Linked DNA regions of Homo sapiens. The protein of the gene in region 2 purifies or fractionates together with the protein of the main gene of each other region. This does not show direct contact. Each region holds a gene or a part of one and is shown on either strand. Other genes may lie near its edges. The genes, in order: NMT2 and PSD2.

What was found.
Region 1: the proteins of PSD2 (region 2) and NMT2 purify together in Homo sapiens (affinity purification with mass spectrometry; one large-scale study listed by BioGRID and IntAct). This does not show direct contact.

The regions. Positions count from the first base shown.
Region 1 is NC_000010.11:15,134,085-15,137,896, forward strand, and holds part of NMT2 (glycylpeptide N-tetradecanoyltransferase 2), read right to left. Parts: exon of another isoform or gene 1,335-3,812; coding exon 1,190-1,334; intron 1-1,189.
Region 2 is NC_000005.10:139,802,202-139,806,013, forward strand, and holds part of PSD2 (PH and SEC7 domain-containing protein 2), read left to right. Parts: intron 1-3,812.

The DNA.
Region 1 (3,812 bases), on a different chromosome or scaffold from region 2:
AGGGCTGCGGTGACCTCTGCCCCTCCCAGCAAAACCTAAAAATAATTTCAAGGCTGGTTACTTCTCCCCATCTAAACTGCTAGCAGCGTAGTTCAGGCCATCACAATTTCTAGTGATTTCCACCAAGAAGAGTTTTCCAAGTCCTTCTCTGCAGAGCTTCCCAACATGGTAGGACTAAAACCCAGGCTCTTCCCCATGGCTGCTGCCTGCCTCGGCCCCTCTCCACACCCTCCCTGCCCCCTGCTCCCAGTGCTCTGGCCATGATGACCGGGGCAGGCCTCAGCTCAGGGCCTTCCTGGTGCCTTCCTTAGGCTTGAGGCCCTCTGGTCCTCAAGGGACGGGCCCCTTGGAATTCCCGACAGAAGCTTACGCATCACACGTCACTTTCTCCCAGCATCTGTTGCTTAACTAAAGCCTTTCTCTACCTCAGTGTGGCCGCTCCTCCCCAGCCTGGCCACCTTTTGTCCTACTTTTCCACCACTGTTTCCAGGTGTGTGCCCTGGACTATGCCTGGCATTTAATAACAGACACTCAACAGACACCTGCTCCATGAGGGACCTTCAGGGCCTGGTCCTTCCATCACAGAACCTTATATACATTTTTAATACTCTAATGGGCTAGGTGCGGTGGCTCACACCTGTAACCCAGCACTTTGGGAGGCCAAGGCAGGTGGATCACTTGAGCCCAGGAGTTCGAGACCAGCCCAAGCAACATACTGAAACAGCGTCTTTACAAAAAAATACAAAAATTAGCCAGGTGTGGTGGTGTGCACTTGTGGTCCCAGATACATGGGAGGCTGACATGGGAGGATGGATCACTTGAGCCCAGGAGGTGGAGGCTGCAGTGAGCTATGATCATGCCACTGCACTCCAGCCTGGGTGATAGAGTGAGACCCTATCTCAAAAATAATAATAATACTAGTAATGTTTCAAGTGTGGGGAAATTGGATGTTTTTATTGGGATAGAAATTGGACTAAAATAATGGTTATCAAAAGCCAATGTCACTATCTAATATTTATATTTTCAGAAGAAAAATATTAGTCTTGCATAGATTTCCAATCTGTGGTATGAAATAAATGATACATGTGAAGTTAACACTCTTTGTGTTTTGTTGTTGTTGTTGTTGTTGTTGTTGTTGTTCATCCAGCTTTGTTTGTGGGGAAAAAAAGAGAAAAGCAGAAAAACTTACCTAGTTTTGGTACCGGTTGTGTGTCCCAAAACTGGTATCTGTGCTTTGCAGCCTCATCAATGTTCCTGGCTGGGCCCTGGCATGCGGATAGCAGCTCCATTGCTCTCTGGATATCCTGCAACTTCTGCATTGGAACACTGGGATTCTACGACAGCAAAGACAGACACAGAATATGAGAGAGCGGCTGCTGATGTTAAACTTGAGCAGACGCACGTGCATCTGCCTCAGAGACTACAATACCTAAACACTAACAATCCTCCTCCAAGCCCAGTCAAGGCCATGGGCTTGTGTGTTACACATGAAAATAGAAGCAAACCCTCTGTTAAAGGTAACAACAGTTGTCTAGTTTTATTGGGGCTCTGGCAGTTTGGGGAATCTAAATTGAAGCACGCTTTGCTTCAGTTTCCCATCCATCTACAAATGGTCCCCGGCATTACTCCTCTGGGGGAGACGTGCAGTGCATGCATTACTGTCATCCAACAGCCAGGCAGCCACGAGCCTTGGGTGGGGGGCACTGTCAGAGTAAATGCTCTGCAGGAGCAACGAGGGGATGAAGGAAAGAACTTCTAGAATGGAAACACAGCAGAGAAGGGAAGGGAAGGGGAGGGGAGGGAAAGAAGAGAGAGAGAGAAAACAAAGAAAGAGAAAGAGAGAGAGAAAGAAAGAGAGAGGATCGGCAGTGGTGTCTCACGCCTATAATCCCAGCACTTTGGGAGGCCGAGGTGGGCAGATCACGTGAGGTCAGGAGTTAAGAGACCAGCCTGGCCAACACGGTGAAACCTTGTCTTTACAACAATACAAAAATTAGCCAGGCATGATGGCAGGTAATCCCAGCTACTCGGGAGGCTGAGGAGGGAGAATCGCTTGAACCTGGGAGGTGGAGGTTGCAGTGAGCTGAGATCGCGCCATTGCACTCCAGCCTGGGTGACAAGAGCAAGACTCTGTCAGGAAAGGGAAAGGGAAAGGGAAAGGAAGGGAAGGGAAGGGAAAGGGAAGGGAAGGGAAGGGAAAGGAGGGAGAGAGAGAGAAGGAGAGAGAAAGAGAAAGGGAGAGAGACAGAGAGAAAGAAAAGAAAAGAAAAAAGGAGGGAGGGAGCGAGGGAGGAAGGAAGGAAGGAAGGTAGGGGGGAGAGACAGAGAGGGAGAGGGAGGAAGGAGGAAGGAGAGGGACAGGGGGAGGAGGGAGGGAGAGAGGGAGGAAAGGAGGAAGGAAGGACAGATGGAAGGAAGGAAGGAAGGAAGGGAAATCTGAACTCAGTGCTGAACTGGGATGAAAATGATCAAGAAAAGAAATCTCTAACCATGCCCCTTCCTCCCGGCCACACCCTGCCCTTCTCCTGACCCTCCTGATCCTCCTGATCCTCTAGAGACAAACTCTCCCACCAGAAGGACAAGCAATTTCCTCTGTACTTCAGATCCTGGGCAACCATAGCCTGTCGTTCCCAGCCCAAGTGTTGGAAACTGGACTCCTTTTTAGGTAAAACATTACGTTTGAATTCTAAGGTTCCTTTCTCAAAGCCAATATTCCCGCCAGCTCTTGGAGATTCCCCAGTTCTTTTTTTTTTTTTTTTAATTCCTCAAATAACGTAATAATACATGGAACATGAGACTACTTGAAATGAGAAGACAGCGCAGAGGACTGAATATGGAAATCAATGACTTTTTTCAATATGTAAAATTACTGAGACATTGTAGAACTTTGATACCATGCAAAGAATATTCTTCGCTGTAATTCAGAAAGTGGTTAGAAGTTTCAAGAGCCCTTCGGTTTTGCTGTATGTCAACACAGGGTGGACACCATTGAAAGGTACAATCGACCCTTAGAAGTTTATAAACAGCAACTTTGGACTTCTGTTCCACTTGGAATCTGAAATCTGTGGTGTGGAGCAATAATTTTAACTTGGGAAGCTTACTCATCGTACACAGCACAGAACAGGGTTTGTTTCATACAAACACTGTCAAGAACCCTAAGGAAACGAAGTTCTGAAGTCCAGCTGGAGGCAGGTGAAAGTCTTTTTGTCTCTGCTTGGAAGTCTCACAGCACAATCCAAGATGGCCACAGTTTTTGTAAGCTGTTTATCTTACATTTGTTTAACATCAAAATCATAAAGGTCCTATCTTAATGACACATACAAATTTAACAAAATACTTTTCCGGTTCTCATTATTATATCTTTGGATGACTTCTTTTCCTTGGGTGTCTTTTAAGTCCCCAACATTAAAAGGAGCAAATTTCTAGCAAAATGAAATTCATGTGTATCTGAACTCCAACAACACCATCTATTAGAAGACCTTACAATTTAAATAGGAATTGAGATCACAGCATATTTCAACTAATAATGCTTAACTGTGCATCAGTTTAGCTTAAAATGGCAAAGTAGAGCCCAGTCTTATAAAAATAGAACTACAATGACTATAATGAATTTGTCATGGTACTTTTTCTTTCTTGATTTAATTTTTTGTTCCTTGATTTCTTTCCTGGTTTCTGAGTTAAATCTTCTAACAGTAATATATCAAACTCAAACTATTTTGCAACAGACATGAATCAGCATCTTTGTTCCACATGACCCAATGACCAAAATGACCAACTCCATGAAGAAGACTTCAGAGTGATTTATTCCCTAC
Region 2 (3,812 bases):
CCACAGTTGGGGAGGCAGAGAAGGAGAGGAGTTGGGGGGCCTGGACAGAGAATGTGAGGACTTAGAGGGTTTGGGGTGTGTGAAAACTGGGCAGACAGAAGGGAGGAGGAAGCTTCTTGGTTTCTGTCTCTTGGCTGTTGAAGCAGACTGTGGGGAGCTACTCAGAGGTGGAGCTCTCTCAGGTCTGCCTCTGCCCAGGTGTTGTATCCGAGGCTGGGCTGGTTGGGAGGATTTGCACTTGGTCAGTCCATTGTAGCTCTCAGGATTCAACTCTCAACCCACAGGCTCATGTTAGCCTGTGGGCTCCATGAGCCTGTGGGTTGAAGCAGTGTGAGTCCAGTGCCCTCCGAAGTTGGAGGAAGGTGGCCCAGTGGTCAGTCTGGCTGTGAACTCTCTTGACCAAGACAGCTTAGTCCTTTGTGGTTCCTGATAACTGAGGGTTCACCCCGTAGGGAAGTCAGTTGGGCATAGAGTCACCAGCTGTAAACATGATTTGAAATTTGACAGCAGACTTTGTGGATTTCATTAGTGTTAAGGGCTCTTCAACCAGCATGCAGATGTACGCAAATGCTAAGCAAATGAGGGTGCCAATTGGCTGGGGGGTTGGGGAGAGAAGCAAGCTGGGAGATGTCTAGGAATGACCTTTGTGGAGCAAGCTCCAAGGGCCCCTGAGAATCCCAGCAGAGCACATGCAGGATAAGATGCAAATGTGCATGCAGCCCCGGGGACTTCTGCCTGCCTGACCATGAGAACATGAGCCCAAGGCAAGGGCTGGTTCCCTGATGGCCACACTGAGAGAAGGAAAGCAGGTGGGGGCTGGTTATCACTCCAAACAGGCATTACCTGAAAGGGATGGGCATCTTTAAAGAGGGCGTAGGTTCTTGGCCCTTGCCCTACACTTGTGTGCCCTGAGATGGAAAGATAGGAGTGAGCCTGGCCTTGGGTGAGGGTGTTGGGAGGGCAGGACAGTAGGGACCTCAGCTGCCTTGGGAAAGGGAGGGGATGCCCTCTCTGGCCCCCCTCCTGGCCCCACGGGAGTCTTTGATTTGCCTCTACCCTCTAGCTGGGCTTCTGAAGCCCCTGCCTCAGAACTTGCTCTGACAGCTGCCAAGGACGCATATCCAATGGGTGCTGGCTGAGTGGCCTGTGCTGTGTGCTGCTGTCCTGGGCATGGCACCCCTGGGGGTAGCCAGCTTGGTTCCTTGCAGCCCCCAGAAGGTTTTGGGAGGCAGCAGCCCTCCCTTGAGCACTGAACACATGCCATCTCCTTTAGTCCTCACAGGTGCCTTGAGAAGACAAATGCTCTTGGCACCCCCCATTTATGGAGGAGGACACCGAGCTCAGATAGACAGGCAGTTTTCCTGAAGTCACACAGCTTGTGGCTAGCAGAGCTTGGATTTGGAGCCAGGTCTTTCTGAGCACACAGGAAAGGGCACTGACCCACTCTCCCGGACTGTCCCAGTCTGAGGCCCTTGCAGCACAAGGCGGTCCAAGCTGGGAAGACCAAGTGGGTTAAGAGGGTTTAGGGTCACTTTGGGATGTGGAATCCGGGAAGTTCCCTAGGCTCCTGGGTGGGCGTCCCTTCCAAATTATCCTGGGCATCTCCCTGGGCAGTTGGGATGTGGAGGAGGCTGGCCTGGGCTTAGGGAGGGGGCCTGGAGCTCTTGGAGGTGGGAAGATCCTTAACTCCAGGCCCCTTGGTTGGCAGAGGCTACAAGGGAGCATGGTTAGGGGGGCCCAACTGAGGGCTTCCTGGCAGCACCCTACTGCCCATGCTGCCAGTGGCCTAGCAGGTCCTGTGGAGCCCTGGAGCACTCCAGGCCTGGCCATCCTAGGCCCCATTGCGGTGTGGGCATCGCTGTTCAGGGTCTGTTTTGACACTCCCTACATGCCACATGTTTGCATTGATCATCTCTTTTAAGTGTCTGTGTGTGTCTTGTGTGTTCATGTGTGTTCACATGTGTTTGTGTGTCTGAAGATCCTAGCCCATGTGCTAAAATCTGGGTGATCTAGGGAATCTTGGGTTGGGATTTTGGGGAAGAGTAGTGAACCAGTGGGGGTGTTCAGGGTGGGTTTCCAGGGGGCAGAGAATAGGTCCAAGAAAGATTTCTTTGCCAAGTAACCCTCATGGAGCTCTCTCCAAGTATCCAATGTTGGTTGGCAGGTCCTTGGAGACTGTCCAGATTAGGGTATGGAATCAAGGATGGATAGAGGGCTTTGAGCCTTTCCAGATATACTCTAAATGTTGCACACATTTGTGAGATTTCCAGGGCAGGATCTTCCATCAAGTGCACAAAGAGGTCCAGGACTTGGAACTGGTTAGGTATCAATGGTGCACGTGGGGACATGAGGTCAGAGAGGGGTTTTTTTGTGCCCAACTTCCCCTAGCCCACTGGAAGCAAAACGTGAGGGTCCTGGTGCTCCTAGATTTGCTTCCCTGGGTCAGCTGTGGTCTCAGCCTTGCCACCACACTGACATTCCAGAACAATTTTCTCTGATCCCAGTCCCTTCTGCATACCCAGGATGGTTTTGACCCTGGATGCCCGATGATGTAGATCTCGCTGCCCTTAACCTTGCCCATAGGCCTGCCAGTGCCTTGTCCACCTTACCAGGCAAATTAGGGGGATTGCCTCATGAGCGGCTGCCCAGTTCCCTCTGTGTGTGTGCGTGTGTGTGTGTCTGTGTGCATGTGTGTGTGCGTGCGTGTGTGCATGTCTGTGAACGTGTGTGTGCATGTGTCTGCACGTGTGCGTGTGTATGTGTGCGTGTGTGCGTGCGTGTGTGCATGTGTGTGTCTCTGTGTGTGTGTGAGTGTGTGCGTGTGTGTGTATTGTGCATGTGTGTGCGCATGTGTGTGTGCACGTGCGCGTGTGTCTGGGCATGTGTACATGTGTGCATGTGCCTACCCATACCTGTATTGTATGTCTGCTGTCAGGTCCTGCACCCATGCACTTGCCCCTGTGTCTTATAGAGCATGCTGGCCTCTGGAGCCCTCCCTGGTGGGCCCCACCTCCAGCCCTGCCCTTGGGTTTCCCACAGTCCCTGGCTTGGATCCCACCATAAAAGGGACCGTAAGATTATTTCTTTGACAATCTAGCATTCCATCAGAATCTCAGCCTTGCTGCTTTCCAGCTTTGTGACTCCGAGCAGTTCCTCAATCTCTCTTAGCCTCTGCCACAAATAGGCATGATGATAATCCCTGTTATTCATCTAACAAATACTTCTAAAGGCCTGCTGTGTGCCAAGCATTGCACTGGACTCTGGGGACACAGCCGTGAACATGACATAGTCCCCACCCTCACTGAACTTACATCCTAGTACAGAGATAGGCAGGGAATCAGTAAACACATAGAAAAGGGAGCTTCAGTTCTACTGAGTGCTATGGTGCTCCATCACTCCATGATGCAGTGCCAGGGGTCAGAGAGGGCCTTTCTCAGGAGGCAGTGTTGGAGTTGAGCCCTGAGTGGCAGAAGAAGCTCTTTTAAAGATCTAGGGAAAGAGCATTCTAGGCCACGGGTATAGCTGGTGCAAAGGCCCTGAGGTGGGAATGAACTCAGGGAGCGGAAAGAAGGCCACTGTGGCTGATGTGGGAGAGCATGGGGACATGGGGTAGAGGGCAGCAGAACCAGCTCCTGCAGGACCTTTTCAGGCCATGCTGGGGAGACTGGATTCTAATCTAGGGGAGATGGTTAGAGGATTATGAGGAGGGAGGAAGGATTGTGCTTTTGCAACTCCCTCCAGCTGCCACAGGGAGAGTGAGGAGGGGGACAGAGTTGCTCAGGAGAGCTGAGACCCAGGAAGTGCTTGACTCT